Homo sapiens: one gene and its partners. The protein of the gene in region 6 purifies or fractionates together with the protein of the main gene of each other region. This does not show direct contact. Each region holds a gene or a part of one and is shown on either strand. Other genes may lie near its edges. The genes, in order: PWP2, POP1, KRR1, RBM28, NVL, ZNF71 and DDX27.

Region 1 (3,500 bases), on a different chromosome or scaffold from region 6:
AAATTTTTAGGAAAGCACTGCTTAATTTCCCAGGGCGCTGCTGGGCGGCCACCACCACGGAGGGACTCCTCATCTACTCCCTGGACACCCGCGTGCTCTTTGACCCGTTTGAGCTGGACACCAGCGTCACCCCCGGGAGGGTGCGCGAGGCACTGCGCCAGCAGGACTTCACCAGGGCCATCCTCATGGCCCTCCGGCTCAACGAGAGCAAACTGGTGCAGGAGGCCCTGGAGGCGGTGCCCAGGGGCGAGAGTGAGTTGGGGCTTCGGTGTCGGGCGCCGGGGTCATCCTCTCTTCCCCTGGTTTGAGTTGGTGGCAGAATAAGCATGATTTTTTCTCCTTTTGCAGTTGAAGTGGTCACCTCCTCCCTTCCTGAACTGTATGTGGAGAAAGTGCTGGAGTTTTTAGCTTCCTCCTTTGAAGTGTCTCGCCACCTGGAATTCTACCTCCTCTGGACTCACAAACTGCTCATGTTGCACGGACAGAAGCTGAAGTCCAGGTAGAGGGTCTCCCCCGCAGTTCATCGGTGGCTCAGGTCACTGGACCAGCTTGTCCTGCTGGATAAAAGGGAACTTTGACATGCCAATGCAGCATGAAGTGAGCCCACTGTACCACGGGGTGAGCCCCGCACGCTTAGGGAGTCTCCCTTTCAGAGCCGGGACGCTGCTGCCTGTCATTCAGTTCCTCCAGAAGAGCATCCAGCGGCACCTGGACGACCTGTCGAAACTGTACGTGTGGGTGCAGGGCCTGGGGGTGGGTGGGGTGCACGGTCCCCTGCTGGTCCACACTGTGGAGTGCTCCTTGTGTCATCTGATTTGAGGACAAAAGGAACCAGTGCTGGAGGCTTGTCTTCTCACCTGCGGGTGAACTGCACCTGCCCGGCCACCCCGTGGTTGAGCAGCTTGGGAAATGGCCTGGCGCTGAATGGAAAGCAGTGAGCACTGTGGCAGGCAGACAGGCTGCAGGTGGCGCGCTCCAGGTGCGGCCGGAATCCTCCAGGCTCTTGGAGGGATTGCCGCATTCGTAGGACCAGGCAGCCTTTCCTGAATTTGCAGGTCACTTGCACAGGCAGTGGGGGTGGTCACAGGACTGTGAGGCCAGGCAGCCTGGAGTCCTGGAGGTGTGGCTGCCCTGAGCTGTGGCTCCCCTAGAAAAGGGTGCTGTTGCTGCTGCTGCGAGGATTCATCCGCGGGCCTAGGACAGGGCCTGGCCCTCCGCAGTGCTCACTCTGCAGGGGTGCCCGCCTCTTCTCCTGTCATTTCTTTGTGGTTTGTGCCTTTTTTGTCCCTACCAATTCACCTTCCCTAAAGGTCCTGCAGAGCCGGGACTAGGCAGGCCTCAGAGTAGCCATGTGAGGGATATCACCCTCTGTTGCCAATCAGTTGCCGGGTTTCCCAGCTGCGTTTCTGAACGGTCTGTTCTCTGTCCTGTTTGCGAGTTGCTCTGTCCAGGGTTCAGGGGCAGAGCCTGAGTTTGGGCCTTGTGGGTTCATGTGGTCCTCCTGTCTGTCCTTGAAGTGTCACTCAGTCTTTGGAAAGAGTCCTGGAGTCCAGGTCGAGCCTGTCCTCCCCTCGTGTTCTGGGTGCCCTACAGAAGGCTGGGATGTGCCCTGATCCACAGTTTTGGTGCCAGGCCTTCCCTCGGCTGAGATGTCCTGGACTTTTCACAGAGCTCTGTAGGGGAGGAGGGTTGTCTAGCTCCCTTATTTATGTATTTATTTATTTTTTAATTCATTATTATTATTATTATTATTTGAGATGAAGTCTCGCTCTGTTGCTTAGGCTGGAGTGCAGTGGCGTGATCTCGGCACATTGCAACCTCTGCCTCCCAGGTTCAAGCAATTCTCCTGCCTCAGCCTCCCAAGTAGCTGTGGTTACAGGCACACGCCACCACCCCCAGCTAATTTTTGTATTTTTAGTAGAGACAGGGTTTCACCTTGTTGGCCAGGCTGGTCTGAAACTCCTGACCTCAGGTGATCTGCCTGCCTCTGCCTCTCAAACAAAGTGCTGGGATTATAGGTATGAGCCACCATACCCGGCCCAGCTCCTTTAGATTTATTCCCTCTTATGGGATGTTTTTAGAGTTCACGTAAGTGCATTGTTCCTTGGACCTCCTGTCTAGGCGTTCACTGCCAATCTGTAGGGTTGCCATTGGCTGTCAGGAAGAGTCCTGCACAGAGGGTCCTGTGCCCTGCAGATGCGATGGGGCGCTTCCTTCCTTTCTCATCCATTTATCTTTCAGTTCTCCTTTCCTATGTAAAGTGATGGTGGCATCACTTTTCTCCTTTATTCCATTAACTCAGAAAATTAACTGATTCAGAGCGTGCCTTCCTCCCCTCTCGCTCCACAACACCACATAGCTCTGCAGCGGTCTCTTCCTAAGTGTTTGGTGGAACTTGCTGGTGAAGCCATCTAGATTGGGCCCAGCGGAAGGGCTGAGCTGCCAGGATGACCCCAAAGGGATGGGATGTTACAGTTGGGTCCTTGGGTCCTTGAAGGCCTTTGCTGCCCCAGGGCTGGATGGGGCAGAACCAGATTGTTGGGGCAGGGAAAAGAGGAAAAAAATGGCTGCTGGGGTGGAGGAACCGGCATGTCCAGCCCCTGCTGCTTTTCTCAGGGGTCACAGAGGAGGTGGTTGGGTGCAGGACAGGCCAGGGCCTGGGCGTTGCTGGCATTGACCATCCCTGTGTGATTGACAGCTGTAGCTGGAACCACTATAACATGCAGTACGCACTAGCAGTTTCCAAGCAGCGGGGCACAAAACGCTCCCTAGACCCGCTGGGAAGTGAGGAGGAGGCAGAAGCATCTGAAGATGACAGCCTGCATCTGCTTGGAGGAGGAGGCAGAGACTCAGAAGAAGAGATGCTGGCCTAGAGCCAGCCGGTTGCAGCGTTGGATTGTGCCGGCTAAGACCTGCCAGGGAGATGGGACCCTTGTGCCACCTGGGCCAGCAAAGAGGAGGGGTCCAGAGAACAGCTGAAATACTGTCACTAGTGGTAGTGACTTGCTTTTCCTGTGCACACATGTAGCCCATCAGGACAGCGAGCCGACGGGTCACGCCAGGGGCCGGCACGCACTGGCACCTGGCCCCAGGAGCGGGGCCGTGTGAACGGTGATGAATGTTGAAAATGCGTCTCAGAGAGGTATTCACATGAACTTTGTATGAGACTTATTTATATCTTTAACATAAAGGTTTGATAAAGAACTTAGGGATTAAAAAAAAGATGGAGTTTTCTAACGTGAGGATGAAGTCTACACTTCAGATTAAAAAGGGTTATGTTGTATCCTGCTGTCTTGTGGGGGCTCAAGACCTGCCTGCCTTACCACCAGGGCCTCCGTCCTGGGGAAGCAGGCTGACAGAGCAGGGTGCTCCTGCTGTCTAGCGGGGGCTCTGCCTTGTGACCTGTGCATATCCTTGGGGTCAGGGGCACAGAGCCTCTCCCTGACCTCTTGGGGATGCTTTGGAGTCTGGGGCTGGGATTGGCCTGTCTTGGTGAGCTC
Region 2 (3,500 bases), on a different chromosome or scaffold from region 6:
TGAACCCTGTTCAGGGTACACAGTTGATTCTCAAATATCTGTTATTGATGAACGACTGTTAGATTAATCTATAGTGAATAAAACTTGACATGATCAACAAGACCTGCACGACCTGGTTCCTACTCTTTTCTCTAGGCTAACCTTGCCCTGATGTTGCCTTGTTCTCCTTCTCTTCTTCTCTGTCACACAGAATTGATTCCAGTTCTTCACTCTCACCTGGCTTCCTTCTGCCTTCCCCCTCTCCTCCCATCTTATCCCTTAGAGCTCAGCTCAAACAGCACTTCTGGGGGACGCCTTCCAGTTAGGTTAGAAATGCTCATCATACTGTATGCTTTTCCCTTACAACCACATATCTGGTAAATCGTTTGATTAATGTCAGTCACCCCCCTAACTTTAGGCTGCCTGATCTCCAGCATCTGGCAAAGGACCCGGGCTTCATGCTCAGGAATTATTTTTAAAATGAATAATCACATAAACGGGGCTTGGCACATCATAAACTATTCTAAAGGCCTCTATGGAAAAGGATCAAACAAAAATAACAAAAAAAGCCCACTGGAAAAGCTCACCTGCAGGAGGCACCGGTTCGTCATGGCTCGATAGCAGGCTCTGTGGCTCTTGACTGTTGGCCTCTCCCCAAGGCAGTAGCCCCACTTCTTGACCATATGAAACCGCTTGGCGTGCCAGATGTGAGTTTCTAACCAAATGTTCTTCTTTTGTCTACGGTTAAATTCTAGCGTCCGGTTCATGTGACATCTTCGAGCTTTATGGCATTTATTTTTTGAATGTTCTTTTTTCTGATGTACGGCTTTCTCCGCCTATAGTTTCAAGTAGAGGGACATATCCCAGTTTGTAAGAATCTCAAAACAGAGTTAACGGTCAGGAATGCAAACAAATAACTTTAGATTAAGTGGAATATTTTATAGATCCCATTAGTTTGCTTAAATTGTTAACTTAGTTTCTTCAATGTAAGTAGAGAAGGAAGACAATGGAAAGAGTGAATGTTTTAGAGCTAGGAGACCTAGGAAGGAGGCACAGTTCCATCACTCACTAACTAGGCAAGTTTCATGGAATATGAAGATCAGAATACTTATAAAATGTTCAACACAGTAACACAAGCTTAATATGGCTATTAGTATTAGAGGGCAAGAAAGAAGAAATCAAATGCTAGCTTCTTGTTGTCATTTTAACCTGTAGAATTGTAACTAAAACCAAAAACTTAAGACCAAAAATAATACAAGTGAGGAAAACCCATACATTTCATCTCAGTTAAGCTACAGACATACACATGCTGAATGCTATCACTGGGAAACAGATTTTATATTAAATCTAGAAAGTATAAAATTCCTTGTTAGTTTTCCCTCTTGAACTCAAACCCCACCACCAGCATAGCAATGGTACATAGAAGGCTGCTCAATAAATAGGTTTTAAACCAATTAGTAAAGACATGGGCTTAATCTTAGAATGTTCAAGTCTAGAATTCTGGTGAAGCCAAAACACAATTAGACTTGTACAAAAATTAAAACCCAGTTCAAGTTTTCAACTTCGAAAAAGTCAGAAAGCAAATGCTAAGCATTGACATTGCTTTTTTTTAACCTTCCTACCCCAAGCTGGGCACACCCTAGAAACACAGATCCAAAACCACTCGGTAAGAGGGTCAGAGTTTTTTTTTAACATCTGGGAAGGGAACATCAACTATTCAACACCCTTACAAGAGAGGAGTATCAAATCCTATATTTCAAAGCACCCATAATAGCCAATTGCCTGTGAATTTCGTTTGAAGGGAAGAAGTTTGGATAATGATTAAATCAAATATATGCAAAACAAAAACAAAAACCATAAGGGTGATGTTTTCTGAGTTTTTTTTTTCTTTTTAGACAAGGTCTCACTGTCACCCAGGCTGGAGTACAGTAGCATGATCACAGCTCATTGCAGCCTCAACCTCCCCTGGCTCAGGGTACCCTCCCATCTCAGTTTCCAAGTAGCTGGGACTACAGGCACACATGTACCATCACGCCCAGCTAATTTGCGGATTTTTTTGTAGAGACAAGGTTAGGCCATATTGCCCAGGCTGGTCTTGAACTCCTGGGCTCAAGCAATCTGACCACCTCAGCCTCTCAAAGTGCTGAGATTACAGGCGTGAGCCACCATGCCCAGCCTTGGTTTTCATTTTTAATAAATTCTATTAGGTCAATACTTCTCAATTTCTTCTAGGAGCTACTAATCTAAACATTTACACTAAGTGGAACTCCTACCTCTTTCTGGGCAATCTCCTGTAACCGTCTGGGAAGGCGTTTGACGTTGTGGCTCATGGCTCTTCGTCGCATGTGCCGTGGCAGAGTCTGAAAAACCAGTGAATTCGAAGACTTCTGGGTCACAGCTTTTAACATAGCACTGATTTCAGCAGCTCGTGCTTGAGCAAAAGTAGAAGCTGTTGAAGGAGATGACAAAGTCATTAAACACCAATCTTGAATTAACATTGGAGAATAAACAGGCTGCTGGGGAAACTTAACTGAATTCCTCCACCAAGAAGGCGTAAAGAGAGACCAGAAAGCATATCTAAGGTATAGGTACAAGGTACAAGGAATATAGGGTTTAATTGTGGTAGTGTGGATGGGGATCATAGGGTGAAGAACAGAAGAGGATGGAAAGGGCCTGGAGACAGGCCCTTTAAATAAAGGTTTGGTTGCCATTTGTGTGTACTCAATTTTCCATCCTTGGAGAATGCTGTGCTGAGTGTGGATGGCATATTTAAAACAAGAGGGGCACGGGGGCTAAGACAAAGAGGAACAGTTCACAAAGACTTGTAAGAAGAAGAGTAAGAGACAGGGAGAGAAACTGAAGAAGGGAGAGCCATCAAGCCCAAGGAAGCTCTGGCCAAAGTCCAGGCTAGAGGCGAGAAGGGTCTAAAGTAGGAGGAGGAGAGGAGAGGTAGGGGAGGCAGAGCCAGGACCACAAGGAGGGCAGTTTGTTGCTGCACTAGACACGAGAGTTCAAAATACAAGCAAACTGCACCTCTTTATGAGTACCCACCAGTTATATACTTGGGGATCTCCTGAGACGTGCCCTCGGGACCTGCTTTCCATCCTCCCTTTTTTCTAAACATCCCTTTGGAGGAAGACTGCTCATTCACTTCAGGGTCAGGCAGAGAATGGGGGTTGACTCTGGTTTGCCGCTGTCGTGAAGTTCCAGGATGAGGCTCTAGTATATTTTCAAAAAGAAACATGTCACCTTTATCAGAGATAAACATTATAGTGGAGAACTAATATTTGTTGGGTGGCAACATTGACCATGTTTTTAATCCTATAGTCACCCTGTAAGGTGGCTATTACTACTTATTTTTAAAGAGGAATCTTACGTAGGAAGGTGAATTAACTTGCTCGAGGTCACAAAGCTAGTAGGTAGCACACAAGGTAATCATGTCAGGATGACATATAAAGGACCTTGGATATAACAGATACAGGTGAAATTTTCTCCTATAAACGGTGCAACATGAATTTCAA
Region 3 (3,500 bases), on a different chromosome or scaffold from region 6:
TTCATAAAACATTTAATTTCAAGAAAGGTTTCTGTAGCTAAAAGAAGTATGATAATCACTGGTACAGTTATATATAATTACCACTCACTTTAATGTTATAAATTGGATGAATATTCTTCATAGTATCAAGGACTACTTTTCTAACCTGAAATTTGCAAAGAAAAATGAATTAGTCACAAGGATTTTAATGAGCTATGGAGAAGAGGATTAATACTGCAAAAATCAGGTAATGGGTACCAAATTAAATAATGTAATTAAATAATTAAGTAGTTCCTTCAACTGCTCTGAGTGGCTTCTCCATCTTTCATAAAGGCAGTCAATCTCCCTTGAATACAATACAGTTTCTCAATTACTGCTAAAATGTAGCACAGAGAACTAATACAACACTCTAAAGCAATGTGATTTAGGAGGAAGAGGGCTGGAATACAAGGACTGCCACTGCATACAGGAAAATCACTTTCCTGTTCCAGCTTTCTCATTTGTAATATAAGATAAAACCATATACCTCAAGACTCTCTTGTAAGAATTGTATTCAATATACTTAATTATTGCTCCATGAGAAAAGAGCAGACAATTTATGACAAAAAAGGCCAATAGGATTACTATTAAAGGCCCTGGAAAGGAAGCACAACCTCACAAGCCAGATCCAGACAGTAATAGTACCAAAAGGAGTTAACAGAAACAGCATTTGCTCCACAGATTTCCTCACCACATGTAATTTGAGAAGTTAAAGAAAATGTTCATGAAAAGTTATTAAACATTATACTAAAATTCAAACAAAAGAAACTACATCTTGAAGAAAAGTTTTCAGAGTGTGACCTCTACTGGCTGTATACACTACTGCAAATAACTGGATTTTTGCTCAATTTTCCCGTCATTTGGACATATGTAACTATACCATGTTCATACATGCTACAGACTGAAGATCTTAATGCTCATTTAAATTTTATAGTGGGAGGAGTAATAGTGTGCAGACCATCTAATTCAGAAATGGATGTCTCCATAGTTGCCAAGGTTGGCCAAAACATGTTAGGGTCCAGATATGATGATTCCCTTGAATTATATGACATAAAAAGTATTTACTAATGGGAAATCAAAGCACATTCTAAAGAAATAAAATTATAAAGCATTATCCAATAAACTATATTATAACCAAATTATTTGTTCTCTGCTGAAAATGAATCGAAGATAATACATAGTTCTCACCTCTTTTAAGCCACTAAAAGGTCCAATGGCTGAAACTGTGTTTCCCTGAACCATAATGTAACAATTAGTTAAGAGTTCCAATGCCTGTATCAAGAGATCAAGTTAAAATTCATTACTCTGAAAAAGTATTAAGGAAGAGACTCAAGTTTTCCACTAATTAAAAAATACCTTCAATGTAGATCCTTTGGGACCAATAAGCCGTTGTCTTCGTTTTACAAATCTCTCTTTATTCCTTACTAAAGAACCTATTTTAATGATGTCACATGCAACATCATCCTGAAGAATTCGTACTGCCTTTTGCAAAAAAAAAAAAAAAAAGAAGACATTATCAACATTTTTTACAATTACATTCATTTTCCAGGCCCACGCTATTGTTACCTAAGCACAAATATGAAAACTTGATGGTGGGATGTTATAGGTTAACACTGATGCAAACAAAGCAAAGTCTCTGTAATTCTAGATTTACCTGTTCAAATGAAACACTCCTTGCTAACAGTTTTATCAGATCTCTGGCCCTAATGATGATATATGGATCAAAAGTCTTCTTTGTAGTACAAACAGTCATGCTGCCTTCGATCAGGTCCAGGGTTGCATTAACATGCTACAGAAGGAAAGAGCAAACAAGCAGTTGTCTAAAAATGAGTTTTTTTAGATAATTATAAAGCCTCTCCTAACCAACCTATTAATTTCTGTCACCTCTCAATTCCTATCAATTACTTCCCTGAAGAAGCTAGGTAGTTAAGTATAAATAATGAATACTCAATTACTTTCACACTTTACAGACTATAAGAAACTGGAGCAATTGAAACCATTTACCCTTGGTTTTAGAATACTTTGTACCCACTGGAATATAGATTGCCTCTAATTTAAAAATTATAAATCAAACAAATGAGGTCATACTTAAAATCTGACTAAGGTAAAAATGTAAAGCTGTACAGCTTCCCTATTCTGGACCCAGCTCCAGTCTACCATCTGCTCCATTGGGTAAGAATTGACTTTCCCTTTCAAACTTTTTTCGAGCTAATTAGGGGACTAAATACAAAGTAAAAGCAAATTATCATAGTTTCAGAAAAAAGCAATGATTAGAAAACTTAAGCATTAACTTTCAACAGGAAAAAACAGATTTCAACAAAGCGAATTAAAATGCTATTTTCTCACTTGTGAGCATAATCTCAAGAATATTTCAACATAGTTAAGTGCTGAACAATTCAACATATGGTTGAGTCTCTATGAGTTTACAAAAAAAAAATGAGCTCAATCCCAGATGCAGCTACAAAACACAACCTGCAGCTTGCTGAGCCACCTTCACCCACAATGGCACAACCAACTCCAGAGCAGTCCCACAGTTAGAAACACATTTTATATCACAACCTAATACATATACACACACACACAAACAAAGCCAATATCAAAAAAAGATACTTTTACCATGTGATATGTCATTTTCTAAAGGCTCATTATAGCCATTAAATTGACTTCTCAATACACTAATGGGTTTCAATCCCCAGTTTGAAAAAAAAAATGCAGTTATCTAGGGGCATAGCATCAGCAATAAACAAGGAAAAGTTGGACACATCCACATCTTCCATTTAAGATGAAAGGTAATCAATTAGAAACATGACTCAGCTCAGACTGGGACAGATACATGACAACTATCATGGCCTGGAGCAGGCATACTGAAATTGGGACTTCACAGGTGAATTTCAGACAGTTGTGAAGCTCCTAAAATATTAAAGGTATGTAAATTTTTCAAAGTAATTTATTACTCATAAAATTAAAACAAATGAACATTAGGTAAGAAGAAAACTTACTTAAATAGTTTAGAATACCAAAGGAACCAAAGTAACCAGCTATGTTAGCACCATTAAAAAAAAAAAAAAAGCATTAGCATACATACATTTAAAGGCATAAGCAAGAGCAAAGTCTCAAATAAATGTATTGATATAAGATACACATACATGTTCATTTAAGGCTTTCTGCACCAATGGCCAACACTCTTTCAAGTAAGCTTCCCTGTATTTTGGGAACAAAGTTGCGAAACTGCTCTCCTCCAAAAGTCCTCTGGGATTGTCCTCTTTGGAAAAAGCTGGTTCCTTCCAACCATCAGGAACCGTAAGGAGTTCTGATTCATCTACAGAAAGGAAAAAATTTACACATCACATTTTAACTGTCTTTTGGACATACACATCACATTTTAACTGTCTTTTGGACACTTTATGAACATCCTATGCACATATTCACAAACCTTCCAATACTCCTTGCATTTCCTTTTCCCCTGCTTTTTATATTATTCA
Region 4 (3,500 bases), on a different chromosome or scaffold from region 6:
CTTTAATATACTCTAGTGGGGAAAGCATGTTATGGGGAATATGTAAAACAAGGAGACTGCTGAAACACAGGAACAGATACGTGGAGGTTCATTTTACTTTTTTCTCTCCACTTTTAAGATTGTATAGCTCAACATTCTCTAAAAAGCTACCGTCCTACACAGAAGTCTTTCTTTTTTTCTTTTTTGCTCAACTAACCAAGGTACAAACATGGCTACGACCTGGCAGAACCATGCCATACCAAAGCTGTATGTCCTGCAGAACTCACCTGCTCGGACGATAATTGCTGCTTCTCCTGCTTCCACTGGTTTATCTGTGGCTTTGGCTTTTTGGGATGGACGGGCTTCACTTTGCCTTTGTCCCGCAACCTGAAATAACATGGCTGAGTGTCACCTTGAGTCCTTCTTCTAATTTGACACCCCTAGGTTCTCTTTGTACACTGGCCCTTCCCAAGCCCATGATAAGTGAAGTCATTCTAAAAAGGGATACTGCAACAGACCCTCTGAAAGCTCAACATTTGTATACTTAGGACTGCTTGATGCCAGGAGTTTGAGACCAGCCTATGCAACATAGCAATCCCCCGTCTCTACTACAACGAAATTAAAAAGTCCCAGCTACTCAGGAGGCTGAGGAAGGTGGATTGAGTCCAGGAGTTGAGGTTACAGTGCGCTATGATCATGCCACTGCACTCTAGCCTGGGCAACAGAGCAAGACCCTGTGACATGGTTTGGATCTGTGTCCTTGCTCAAATCTCACGTTGAATTGTAATCCCCAGTGTTGAAGGCTGGGCCTGGTGGGAGGTGACTGGATCATGGGGATGACTCCTTCATGAATGGTTTAGCGCCATCCCCTCAGTGCTGTTCTCGTGACGGTGAATGAGTTACCACAAGATCTGGTTGTTTAAAACACTCCCCCCTGCTCCTGGCCATGTGATGTGCCAGCTCCCACTTCACCTTCCACTATGATTAAGTTTCCTGAGGCCTCCCTAGAAGATGAGCAGCTGCTGTCATGCTTCCTGTACAGCCTGTGGAACCATGAGCCAATTAAGCCTCTTTTCTTTTCTTTTTTTTTTTTGAGACGGAGTCTCGCTCTTTCGCCCAGGCCAGAGTGCAGTGGCGTGATCTCGGCTCACTGCAAGCTCCGCCTCCCGGGTTCACGCCATTCTCCTGCCTCAGCCTCCCCAGTAGCTGGGACTACAGGCGCCCGCCACCGCACCCAGCTAATTTTTTGTATTTTTAGTAGAGACGGGGTTTCAGCATGTTAACCAGGATGGTCTCGATCTCCTGACCTCGTGATCCACCCGCCTCGGCCTCCCAAAGTGCTGGGATTACAGGCGTGAGCCACCGCGCCCAGCCAAGCCTCTTTTCTTTATAAATTACCCAGTCTCAGGTATTTCTTTATAGCAGTGGAAGAACTGAATAATACACTGTCTCTAAAAATAAAATAAATAAATAAATAAAACCCCATGGATATCTCAAAAACCTTCATTTATTTAACAAATATTTTGTAAAGATTTACTTTTGTAGAGCACTAATCTGCTGTCCCAAACAGAAACTACAACTGAACCTCAAGTATGTGGTCTCAGCTGGCAGAGATGGCCATCTGGACAAGAGGAAGCTCTTCAAAAGAGGAGAAAAGGGGCACAAAAGCCTGCCCTAGGAGGCCCCTCTGCCATTGATCTAAGAGTGACATCTCTGATGGTGTTGAAGACTCGCGTGTTAACCCCATGTGTGGGAATACATAGCACCAAACATCCTTTTCAACCAAACAAATGCCACAAAGAGAAAATAACTCAGCAAAAACAAACCCGCTTAGAACCCACCCACTGTTCTGTGCTTCTGCCCTCCTGCATCTCACCTGATTTTGGGGCCTCGGTGTGAGGGGAGCGCCAGGACCTTTCTTCTCTTCTTTCCATCAGGCAGCTCCACCTGCTCCACTTCAGCCTTGGTCTGGAACCCGGTCCATGAGGTAGAGCCCGCCTTTCTCTTCTGCTCTGGGGGCACCTTGCTTTGTTCCTCTGTGTGGTGTTGAGCTGCCTTCTGTTGCTGGTCTTTTGCAGGCTCTGGTTGCCCCTTCTGAGGCTCACCAGTTGCAGGCTTGGATCTCATTTTTTGCTGCATAAAACAAGAAAATGCCATCTGGTTTCTGGATGAGCTTTGTTTGCTGCAAATACTCAGCAGAAGATGAGCTTTATGTGAGCTAGATGAAAGAAGAGGAATTCTTCCCCCACACAATTGGAGACTAGAGGAAAGTGAATACATGTAGATCACAAGCCCTGCCACAGTAACAGATGGTTACTGGGTGGGGGGCACAAAATAACCATTCCCCTTCCCATAACACAGAAATAAGGGAGAGTGCATGCCCAAAATTCAAAAGTCAGTAGGTGGGACAATTATCAAAGGTGTAACCTATGTAGAAGGAGAATACAAGAAGAAAGCAAGCAACAGAAAAGATAATGAAGTAATAAGGGCTGAGAATTTTTCAAAACTAATGACAGTCACTAAACCACAGATCTAGGAACTCAGAGAAGACCAAATAAGATAAATACTAAACAATTTACAACCAGTCATATCATAGACAAACTGCAGAAAATCAAAGATAAAATCTTGAAAGAAGCCAGACAGGGGAAAAATTTTACCTATAGAGGAACAAGGATGAGATTACATCAAATCTCTCTCTCTTTTGTTTTTAATAGGCACCCTCCCAAACCAGAGTAGATTGAGAGAGATTTCCAAGACTTCTCTTCAGAAACCATGTAAGCAAGAAGGGAGTGAAGTGAGATATTTAATATTTAAATTTTTAAAAGAAAAAAAAATCACCAACCTACAATCCTGTATCCGATAAACTTATCCTTCAAAAGTGAAGGAAAAGACTTACTCAGACAAAAGAAAATGGAGAGAATTTGTTGCCAGTAGACCTGTCTGCAAGAAATGCGAAATAATCTCTTCAGAGAGAAGAAAAATGACATAGGTCAGAAACTGATCGTTTTCAAGAAAGGAAGAACATCAGGAATGGAATAAATGAAGTAAAGACGACAAGAAAAAGATGCTGTGGGAAGGAAGGCATCAAGGAAGTTATAGAAGTATTTGCACTGAAGTGGAAGAAACAGAAGATTCAAGTGAAATTAATGTAATGATAAGTGTGTGTTGTTCTTCCCTTTCACCTTAGAAATCTAGATAGGTACAACGATACAATGAACATTTATTATATGCCTAGTGTGTGCCAGTCTGTTTCCAGGATACAAAAAAATAGTGTCTACCCTTCAGGACTCACAGCCAGGTGGAGATAAGAGATGCATTCACAAATAAACCAAAGTAAAAAAAACTACACAGCTTAAGGAAGTTCATGAAAATCAAGTAAAGAGGGCCTTATATCTTTTGAGAGAGGTGGAGGCATGCAACTTGAAAGAGATCATTTGATCTGCATATGCAAAGTGAGTAGAGGCATTTTTACACAGAAAGAACAGTATGAATATAAATCCAGGCAACAAATAAAGTAATTT
Region 5 (3,500 bases), on a different chromosome or scaffold from region 6:
GTAATCCCAGCTACTCGGGAGGCTGAAGCAGGAGAATAGCTTGAACTCAGGAGGCAGAGGTTGTGGTGAGCTGCGATTGTGCCATTGCATTCCAGCCTGGGCAACAAGAGTGAAACTCTGTCTCAAAAAAATAAATAAATAAATAAATAAATAAAAAGAGTTCCAGCTGTTTCATATCCTTGCCACCATTTAGTGTTGCCAATATTTTAAATTTTAGTCATTGTGGTAGGTGTGTAGTAGAATCTCACTGTGGTCAAATTAAAAAAAAATTTTTTTTTTTGAGACGGAGTCTCAATCTGTCGCCCAGGCTGGAGTGCAGTGGTGCAATCTTGGCTCACTGCAACCTCTGCCTCCCAGGTTCAAGCGATTCTTCTGCTTCAGCCTCCTGAGTAGCTGGGACTACAGGTGCGCAGTAGCTGGGACTACAGGTGCGCGCCCAGCTAATTTTTGTATTTTTAGTAGAGATGAGATTTCACTATATTGGCCAGGCTGGTCTTGAACTCCTGACTTCGTGATCTGCCCGCCTCAGCCTCCCAAAGTGCTGGGATTACAGAAGTGAGCCACCGCGTCTGGCAAATTAACATTTTAAATGTTGGGTGGCAATTCCACTCCTGTGTATTCATCCCAAAGAAATACTTGAAGTGTGTTTTTTCTTCTGTGTTTATTTGTTTGTTTTTGAGACAAGGTTTCGTTCTGTAACCGAGGCTGGAGTACAATGGTGTGATCATGGCTCAGTGTAGCCTCAACCTCCTGGGCTCAAGTAATCCTTCTGCCTCGGTCTCCTAAGTAGCTGGGACTACAGGTGCATGACACCATGCCTGGCTAAGTTTTAATTTTTTTGTAGAGACAGGGTCTCACCATGTTGCCCAGGCTGATCTTGAACTCCTGGGCTCAAGCCATTCTCCCACCTCTGCCTCCTGAGTAGCTGAGATAACAGGCATAAGCCCCTGTGCCCAGCTCCAGAGTGATTTTTTTTTAACCCTTCTCCCACCTATGGTGAAGATGTTTTTATTTCCCTGAAATGTATGGGTAAGTCCCTATGGCTTAGTTTGGGTACAGTCTAGCTCCAAGAAATACAAAGCCATTTATCAAAAAGCGTAGAGTAGGTCAAATAATACTTGAATCAGATGATTAAAATTCTGAGATTGTGGGCTGGGCGCAGTGGCTCACGCCTGTAATCCCAGCACTTTGGGAGGCCAAGGCGGGTGGATCACGAGGTCAAGAGTTTGAGACCAGCCTCACCAATATGGTGAAACCCTGTCTCTACTAAAAATACAAAAAATTAGCCAGGCATGGTGGTGCGCACCTATAGTCCCAGCTACTCAGGAGGCTGAGACAGAAGAATCGCTTGAACCCAGGAGGCAGAGGTTGCAGTGAGCCAAGATCATGCCACTACACTCCAGACTGGGTGACAGAGCGAGACTCTGTCTCAAAAAAATAAAAAAAAAATCTGAGATTGTGGAGGCAGAAGAGGTCATTCTCTTTCTGAATAAAGTTGTTAGAGAATCTAGTTAGGAAAACTGTGTTCTAGTCCCTAAGAAACATATAAAATTAAAATCTCTCAAGAACATTCTCACAAAGGCAATTATTTTGCTTGTTTTCAGATCAAAATGAACCATGTAATTTCTTTTTAGGAAGTAGAAGTAGTATACAAAACAATCTGTAAAAGAGTTTAATTCAGCCGGGCGCGGTGGCTCACGCCTGTAATCCCAGCACTTTGGGAGGCAGAGACGGGCGGATCACGAGGTCAGGAGATCGAGACCATCCTGGCTAACATGGTGAAACCCCGTCTCTACTAAAAATGCAAAAAATTAGCCGGGGATGGTGGCGGGCACCTGTAGTCCCAGCTACTTGGGAGGCTGAGGCAGGAGAATGGTGTGAACCCGGGAGGCAGAGCTTGCAGTGAGCAGAGATCGCACCACTGCACTCCAGCATGGACGACAGAGCAAGACTCCGTCTCAAAAAAAAAAAAAAAGAGTTTAATTCATGAGGTCATATCTACTGGTCTAAAATTCTAGTTTCCTTTCTCTATGCATTTAATGGCATTGCTTACCTTTTTTGATATAGATGATCTTACTTTCTTGAAAGCTTCTTCAAAATGCTTATGACTAACCTTGAGTTCACCTATGGAGTAAATGCACAAATATACACATCTCAGTATCGTATGGTAACTGACTTAGAACTTAACTTCCTTTGAAAGACTTCAAAACTTTCAAGGGGTCCACTAAAGAGATCAGTGATGAGATGGGCTCTGTTCTTTTTCAGAACAGTATTCTAGCCAGATATATTCTGCTCATCAGATTTTAATCCAAAACCACCCAAAGAGATCTGCCACTCATAAGTTGGTAACTTTTTGTAGGCCTCTTTGCATTGTTTAACTTAATGGTGATGCCTATGAACAAGAGCCAGAATTATTCAGATAATTCAAATAAATGTAACTGGAATAGAAAGTAGGATTCCATAGTATTAATATTTAAGAGTATGCAACACACAATGAGATCTTATGGAGCCATAATATCATAGAATATTTTATATATAATATATCTCAGCACTGGTTTAGAAGGGAGCTTTAGGTCGGGCGCGGTGGCTCAGGCTTGTAATCCCAGCACTTTGGGAGGCCGAGGTGGGCGGATCATGAGATCAGGAGTTCGAGACCAGCCTGACCAATATGGTGAAATCCCGTCTCTACTAAAAATACAAAAAAAATTAAGTGGGTGTGGTGGCACACGCCTGTAGTCCCAGCTACTCGGGAAGCTGAGGCAGGAGAATTGCTTGAACCAGGAGGTGGAGGTTGCAGTGAGCCGAGATCGCGGCACTGCACTCCAGCCTGGGCGACAGAGCAAGACTCAAGTTTAGAAAATAAATAAATAAATAAATAAAAATACAGACAGGGAGGCCGGGCGCAGTGGCTCACACCTGTAATCCCAGCACTTTGGGAGGCCGAGGCAGGCGGATCACGAAGTCAGGAGATCGAGACCATCCTGGCTAACATGGTGAAACCCCGTCTCTACTAAAAATACAAAAAAAAAAATTAGTCAGGTGTGGTGGCCGGCGCCTGTAATCCTAGCTACTTGGGAGGCTGAGGCAGGAGAATGGCATGAACCCGAGAGGCGGAGCTTGCAGTGAGCCAAGATCGCGCCACTGCACTCCAGCCTGAGTGAGAGCGAGACTCTGTCTCAAAAAAAATAAATAAATAAAAATAAAAATAACAAAATAAAAATAGAGACAGGGTTTTGCTCTGTCACTCAGGCTGGAGTGCAGTGGTGCAATCATAGCTCATTGCAGCCTCGAACTCCTGGGCCTCACCCTCCCAAGTAGTTAGGACTATAGGCATGCACCACCATGCCAGTCTAATTTTTAAATTTTTTATAGAGATGGCATCTTGGTTTGTTGCGCAGGCTGCTCTCAAACTCCTGGGCTCAAGCAATCCTCCTGCCGCAGCTTCCCAAAGTGCTGGGATTACAGATGTGAGTCACCACACCCAGCAGACAATTTTTTTC
Region 6 (2,842 bases):
TCAGGTGCATGTTCTGGCTGAAGGCTCGCCCGCACTCGGGGCACACGTACGGCTTCTCCCCGGTGTGCGTGCGCTGGTGCACGATGAGGTGCATGTTCTGGCTGAAGGCCTTGCCGCAGTCCCCGCACGCGTAGGGCTTCTCCCCCGTGTGGATCCGCTCGTGCTGGGTGAGAGAGGAAGTCTTCCGGAAGGCCTTGCCACACACGTCGCACACATACGGCTTCTCGCCCGTGTGCGTGCGCTGGTGCACAGTGAGGTTCATGCGCTGGCTGAAGGCCTTGCCGCAGTCCCCGCAGGCATAGGGCTTCTCGCCCGTGTGCACCCGCTGGTGGATGGTGAGGGACGAGCGCTCGATGAAGTGCTTCCCACAGGTGTCACACTCAAACGGCTTTTCTCCCGTGTGGATCCTTTGGTGCTTTATCAGGGACGAGCTTCGGCTAAAGGCCTTGCCACACTCGCTGCAGTCGTAGGTTTTCTTCTCCTCGCAGGGCATGGGGGGCTTACTGAGGTCTGAAGTGCTGGAGAAGTTCTTGCCACGCCTTACGGGTGGACAGGCCCCCTTTTCTGTGGGGTCGTCCAGCCGTGGTGGGACCAGGACACAGCCTTGGTTGGCAAATGCCTTCAGTTCATGACATGCGGGTACTGAGCCCCCTAAGAGTTTGTTCCCCTGGGGAATTCCCAATGGCTCCCACTCTGCACCTGCATCTCCCCGCGGCCTCTCTGGCCAGCTGCCTGGTTCCCACACTCCTTCTGAGCCAGGACCCCTGGCACCATTCCTCGTGGGTCCCCCCGTGGCCTCCCCAACAACGGAGAGCTTGTCTTCCGAAATGTCATTCTTTGGATCCAACTCTTTCATTTCAGGTCTAGTCTCCCAGTCTGAAAAAAACAAAAACAGAAGATGCAAATACATGTAGTTAAAGATGCTGGGAGTGAGGAAGCTCCACAGCAGGAAGGAGCAAATGAAACCGACCCCAATGAGGCCCAAGGCACAGAGCGAGTTAGCAAAGAAGAACCTTGGATCAGAGAGGGAGGGAGGAGGGAGGCATGGAACTGAGGCCAATGTGGTTTATGAAGCAGAGTCAACACAGGAGGTGAACAGGGAGAGCAAATGTCCCTTCAGAAGAGGGATGACAGGCACTCCTGGAGAGAAACTGCAGTAGTGAGCTGGGCTTGCAGGGAGCAAAGGGCAGGCTCTGCAAACCTGAGTAGGAATGACTGCAGCCGGCTACTGACTTGCAGGGCCTCCTCACTTCATCCTGCAGATCCACAACCAGTCGTGCTCCTCAAGCAACAGTTTTTATCAGAAATAATAAGATGGCCAGGCACAGTGGCTCATGCCTGTAATCCCAACACTTTGGGAGGCTGAGGCAAGGATTGCTTGAGACCAGCCTGGGCAACATAGTGAGACCCCCCACCCCCGCCTCTACTAAATTTTTTTTTAAAAATTAGCCAGGCATGGTGGCACATGCCTATTGTCCCAGCTACTTGAGAGGCTGAGGTGGGAGGATCACTTGAGCCCAGGAATTCGAGGTTGCAGTGAGCTATGATCACGTCACTGCACTCCAGCATGGGTGACAGGGTGAGACCCTGTCTCTTAAAAAATAAATAAATAAATAAATATTGAAAAAAGAAGAAAAAGAATAAAGAAATAATAAATAGCTAGCATTTATATGGCATGTGTTGGTTATTCTCTACTCCTTCGACCCACTTTCTATTCTCCACCCTTCTCTGACCTGCCCTGTGCTCAGGATGCTGACTTTGCCCACTGGCTTCCTGTGTGTTTGGCCAAAGGCAGGAAACTGGAAGTGAAATGAGAGAAAAATCGGGCATTTCTCCTGCCCCTTTGCCACTTCTCTGGTATGGCTGCCCCAGGGTTGCTGGCTGCAAGATCCTCTCCCCTGGCTGGGGCTCCGGCTCCCGCTAGCTCATCACGCACCTGCCCTGGCTGGCCCCAGCCCTCCCGCACCCCAGCCCTCTCATCAGCCTCAGCACTAAGTGTTCATACACACAGGACCGCTCACTTGAGCCCACAATAATCACATGACTTGGGGTCTCACAATTGCTTCTGTTGCTACGTCACACGCTGCCTAGTTCTTGGGTGGCAGGCATTCCGTGGAGCTTGGGTTCAGACCCTCTTTCTCTGCTCATCCACCCTCCCTGGCTAAATACCTCTGTGCCCACAGCTTCAATCACCTTCCACGTGTATCCTGTTCATTTCTAAACCTCGATTTCTAGCCTAGGTGGAGTCTAGACTCTGCATCAGGGGACTCATTCCCAGCATTTAAAAGTTGCTGTCCATGTGGCTGCTAGCTCATAAAAAACATGAAGATATGGCCACGTGGAGCCTCATTCTTATGGGCAACAAGACATTGCATGGGGCAGCAGCTGTCCCCCTCCTCCACATAAATGATCCACCTGGTAGTTCCTGAGGCCACCTGAGTTTGAGACCACTCTCCTGAATCACACTGGACCTTCAAAGCCACACAAAGTGAGTCTGGATCTAAACGTTATCCACAGGCTGATGCTGCTCAAACATACACCTTCAGCCCAGACCTGCTTTCTGGGCTATGTCCAAACTGTTCAAAAAAGCCCAGCATCTCAACTGGATAGCCCAAGCCTAACACATCCGATACGAAACTTGGGATTTCAGACTTTCCCCATGAAAAACATTTTTTAAAAAAGCAAAGCCCATCAAAGAGACTTAGTAAAATAAATCAGACATGAAAGGATGGATGCCATGTGATTCCACTCATCTGCGGTACCTGGAGGTCGGATTCCCAGAGACAGACGGTAGAACAGAGGATGCCGGGGGCTGAGGAGTGGGTGGGAGTTGGTGTTTAAT
Region 7 (3,500 bases), on a different chromosome or scaffold from region 6:
ACGAGTGCCAGGAGGTGTCGTCAGAGAGGGCCAGAAGGGGCAGAGCCTTGTAGGTCAATATAAGGACTCAGGCTTCTAAGAAGAGTGAGACTGGGAAGTACTGAAGGACTCAGAGAAGAAGAGGAGGGACACGATGGAACTCATTGCTTAAGAGAGTTCTCGGCCGGGCGCGGTGGCTCACGCCTGTAGTCCCAGCACTTTGGGAGGCTGAGGCGGGCGGATCACGAGGTCAGGAGATCGAGACCATCCTGGCTAACACGGTGAAACCCCATCTCTACTAAAAATACAAAAAATTAGCAGGGCGTGGCAGCGTGTGCCTGTAGTCCCAGCTGCTGGGGAGGCTGAGGCAGGAGAATGGCGTGAACCCGGGAGGTGGAGGTTGCAGTGAGCCGAGATTGTGCCACTGCACTCCAGCCTGGGCGACAGAGTGAGACTCCGTCTCAAAAAAAAAAAAAAAAAAAAGGGAGTTCTCTGGCAACTGTATGGACAAGAGTTGAGGGAGGCAAAGAGAGAAGCAGAAAGTCCAGTTAGGGGTGGCTGCAATAATCCCATGGTTGCCAAAATAAGCCACTACTGGCCAGGCACAGTGGCTCAAATCCCAGCACTCTGGGAGGTTGAGGCAAGAGGATTGCTTGATGCCAGGAATTTGAGACCATCTTGGACAACATAGCAAGACCATGCTTCTACAAAGAAAATTTTTGACAAGAAGCTGCTACCTTCAGAAGAGGGCGGGAAAGGTTCATGTCCTGGAACGAGAGGTTTTCATCGTACTGAGATGCATCTTCAAAAAATCCTCCTGCTTCCTACACCAGAAAACCAAAAGAGAGAAGAGAATTCAACAAAAAGAGCCAAGAAACCCAAACGACCTTAAACTCCTTTCGGTTTGCCAACAAGCTGCATACTGTCTTGCAGCCCCAAGCTCACCTGTCCTTTCTTCTTCTTCTTCTTCCGATCCTTTACTTTGAGTGTATCTATGGAGAAAAACTTAGCTGATGACCACGGCTCAGACTTACAAAGCACTTGCATCCTGCTGGACACTGTCCTAAGTGCCAATGCCACACTTCAGCCTCTGAGGGGTGACCATCGTCAACCTTGTTTCACAGATGAGGACACTTTGTGGCAGCATGGTGAAGTAACTTGCCTAAGGTCAGAGAGAAAGCTAACCCAGTGACTCTGGTCCAGAGACCAGGCTCTCGACCACTACACTGTATTATGATGCTTTAGCACACATTTCTGCAAGAAATACTTATTGAGGGCGGAAGCAGTGGCTCCCGCCTAAAATCCCAGCACTTTAGGAGGCCGAGGCAGGTGGATCACCTGAGGTCAGGAGTTCGGGACCAGCCTGTCCAACATGGTGAAACCCCATCTCTACTAAAAATACAAAAATTAGCCAGGTGTGTTGGCGTGTGCCTGTAGTCCCAGCTACTTGGGAGGCTGAGACAGGAGAGTTGCTTGCACCCGGGAGGCAGAGGTTGCAGTGAGCTGAAATTGTACCACTTGCACTCCAGCCTGAGTGACAGAGTAAGACTCCATCTCAAAAAAAAAAAAAGAAAGAAAGAAATACTTATTGAGCACCCACTATGTGGCTGGACCCATCTGAGTATGTCACCCCAAATGAGTTTGTATCACAGTGGCATCTGGCAGCCGCATGGGGCTAGATGGGAAAAGAGTAAACTACCTATGAAGTACAACAACCCAAACAAAATCCCAAGAGAAAAGAAAACCTAAAAGAAAGGATTCAGCGGGCACAGTGGCTCACGCCTGTAATGCCAGCACTTTTAGAGGTCAAGGCGGGAGGACTGCTCGAGCCTAGAAATTTGAGACTAGCCTGAGCAACAAAGCAAGACCCCGTCCCTACAAAAAAAAAAAATTAGCCAGGCGCAGGGGCATGCACCTGTAGGCCCAGCTACTTAGGAAGCTAAAGCAGGAGGATCACTTAAGCCAGTGAGTTCAAGCCTTCCAGTGAGGTATGATTGCACTACTGCACTCCAGCCTGTGGATGGAGTGAGACCACATCTCTTTTGTTTTGTTTTTTGAGACAGGGTCTCATTCTGTGGCCCAGGGTTAAGTTCAGTGGGACAATCTCAGCTCACTGCAACCTCTGCCTCCCAGTTTCAAGTGATTCTCGTACCTCAGCCACCTGAGTGGCTGGGATTACAGGTGCATGCCACTACACCAAGCTTATTTTTGTATTTTCAGTAGAGATGGGGTTTTACCATGTTGCCCAGGCTGGTCTCAAACTCCTGGCTTCAAGCGATACACCCACCTCAGCCTCCCAAAGTACTGGGATTACAGGCATGAGCCACTGCACCCAGCCAACATCTCTTAAAAAAAAAAAAAAAAGAAAGAAAGGAGTTCAATGTAGTAGGCAGAACAGCTTAAAGATAAACTGTGCAGAAGAGTGGAGGAAACCCTACAAAGTAAAGGAGGATGCCTTCTGATCTCCTGTCCCCATTACTGACACCTCCGCCGTAACGTCTACCTGCTTTGGTGAGGATGTTCTCATCAGCTGATGAGTAGTCAGTCTCCGAGGCTTCATCTTCTGAGCCTTCCTCATCATTCTCTTGAAGGTCTTCCTGCTCCTTTGGTTCAGAGCCTTCCTTTGCTTCTTTCTCCTTTTCCAACTTCCCAGACTTGGCTTCTTTATCCTGGGAAAAAAATTAAAGTGAGGGTGATGAGAAACTTCTAGAAATCCAGAACCTAAGTAGAGCGATAGGAAGCTCTCCGGCCTGAATGAACGGCTGTGGGGATTCTCAGTACAGATTCACAGCAAACACACAGAAGAGTGCGCCTGCCCCAGCCATGCCCCGCTCTATAAGGGCTTCCAGAGAGATGCTGGGGTCGTGGTGAGAGTAAAGAGTGGGCCCTAACAACGAAAAATAGCCACTTTTCTTCTCACCTCTGTTTTCCTTTTCTTTCGAACTTTCTCAATCTTCTCATCTAATGTAGTGGCTGCCCTCTGCAGATAAAAATAAAGAGGTGAAAAAGAAATTTTCATTGAAACATCGAATAAGAGAACAAACTCTTCATAATTAACTTGAAAAAGAAAAAATTTTGGCCTTCTCTGAAAATACATATACATATTATATATATAAAAATTTTAGGCCGGGCGCGGTGGCTCACGCCTGTAATCCCAGCACTTTGGGAGGCCGAGGTGGGTAGATCACCTGAGGTCAGGAGTTCGAGACCAGCCTCAACATGGAGAAACCCTGTCTCTACTAAAAAAATACAAAATTAGCCGGGTGTGGTGGTGCATGCCTGTAATCCCAGCTACTCGGGAGGCTGAGGCAAGAGAATTGCTTGAACCTGGGAGGCGGAGGTGGCAGTGAGCCGAGATCACGCCATTGCACTCCAGCCTGGGCAACAAGAGCAAAACTCCGTCTCAAAAAAAAAAATTTTTTTAATCCTCTCCAGACGATCTTGAAAATGCAGTGCTGGTAAGGCTGAGCACAGTGGCTCATGCCTGTAATCCCAGCTACTCAAGAGGCTGAGGCAGGAGA

What was found.
Region 1: the proteins of ZNF71 (region 6) and PWP2 purify together in Homo sapiens (affinity purification with mass spectrometry; 2 studies listed by BioGRID and IntAct, with this or other methods). This does not show direct contact.
Region 2: the proteins of ZNF71 (region 6) and POP1 purify together in Homo sapiens (affinity purification with mass spectrometry; one large-scale study listed by BioGRID and IntAct). This does not show direct contact.
Region 3: the proteins of ZNF71 (region 6) and KRR1 purify together in Homo sapiens (affinity purification with mass spectrometry; one large-scale study listed by BioGRID and IntAct). This does not show direct contact.
Region 4: the proteins of ZNF71 (region 6) and RBM28 purify together in Homo sapiens (affinity purification with mass spectrometry; one large-scale study listed by BioGRID and IntAct). This does not show direct contact.
Region 5: the proteins of ZNF71 (region 6) and NVL purify together in Homo sapiens (affinity purification with mass spectrometry; 2 studies listed by BioGRID and IntAct, with this or other methods). This does not show direct contact.
Region 7: the proteins of ZNF71 (region 6) and DDX27 purify together in Homo sapiens (affinity purification with mass spectrometry; 2 studies listed by BioGRID and IntAct, with this or other methods). This does not show direct contact.

What each region holds. Positions count from the first base shown.
Region 1 is NC_000021.9:44,127,899-44,131,398, forward strand, and holds the end of PWP2 (periodic tryptophan protein 2 homolog), read left to right. Parts: intron 1-33; coding exon 34-252; intron 253-348; coding exon 349-499; intron 500-653; coding exon 654-728; intron 729-2,698; coding exon 2,699-2,873; 3' UTR 2,874-3,283; downstream 3,284-3,500. UniProt on the Homo sapiens protein: Part of the small subunit (SSU) processome, first precursor of the small eukaryotic ribosomal subunit.
Region 2 is NC_000008.11:98,127,293-98,130,792, reverse strand, and holds part of POP1 (ribonucleases P/MRP protein subunit POP1), read right to left. Parts: intron 3,199-3,500; coding exon 3,031-3,198; intron 2,429-3,030; coding exon 2,253-2,428; intron 816-2,252; coding exon 567-815; intron 1-566. UniProt on the Homo sapiens protein: Component of ribonuclease P, a ribonucleoprotein complex that generates mature tRNA molecules by cleaving their 5'-ends. Also a component of the MRP ribonuclease complex, which cleaves pre-rRNA sequences.
Region 3 is NC_000012.12:75,505,110-75,508,609, forward strand, and holds part of KRR1 (KRR1 small subunit processome component homolog), read right to left. Parts: intron 3,338-3,500; coding exon 3,165-3,337; intron 1,808-3,164; coding exon 1,673-1,807; intron 1,501-1,672; coding exon 1,375-1,500; intron 1,291-1,374; coding exon 1,207-1,290; intron 146-1,206; coding exon 89-145; intron 1-88. UniProt on the Homo sapiens protein: Part of the small subunit (SSU) processome, first precursor of the small eukaryotic ribosomal subunit.
Region 4 is NC_000007.14:128,312,909-128,316,408, forward strand, and holds part of RBM28 (RNA-binding protein 28), read right to left. Parts: intron 2,113-3,500; coding exon 1,856-2,112; intron 367-1,855; coding exon 267-366; intron 1-266. UniProt on the Homo sapiens protein: Nucleolar component of the spliceosomal ribonucleoprotein complexes.
Region 5 is NC_000001.11:224,229,173-224,232,672, forward strand, and holds part of NVL (nuclear valosin-containing protein-like), read right to left. Parts: exon of another isoform or gene 3,476-3,500; intron 2,125-3,475; coding exon 2,054-2,124; intron 1-2,053. UniProt on the Homo sapiens protein: Participates in the assembly of the telomerase holoenzyme and effecting of telomerase activity via its interaction with TERT. Involved in both early and late stages of the pre-rRNA processing pathways.
Region 6 is NC_000019.10:56,619,302-56,622,143, reverse strand, and holds part of ZNF71 (endothelial zinc finger protein induced by tumor necrosis factor alpha), read right to left. Parts: intron 877-2,842; coding exon 1-876. UniProt on the Homo sapiens protein: May be involved in transcriptional regulation.
Region 7 is NC_000020.11:49,222,416-49,225,915, reverse strand, and holds part of DDX27 (probable ATP-dependent RNA helicase DDX27), read right to left. Parts: intron 2,960-3,500; coding exon 2,900-2,959; intron 2,649-2,899; coding exon 2,483-2,648; intron 972-2,482; coding exon 925-971; intron 804-924; coding exon 717-803; intron 1-716. UniProt on the Homo sapiens protein: Probable ATP-dependent RNA helicase. Component of the nucleolar ribosomal RNA (rRNA) processing machinery that regulates 3' end formation of ribosomal 47S rRNA.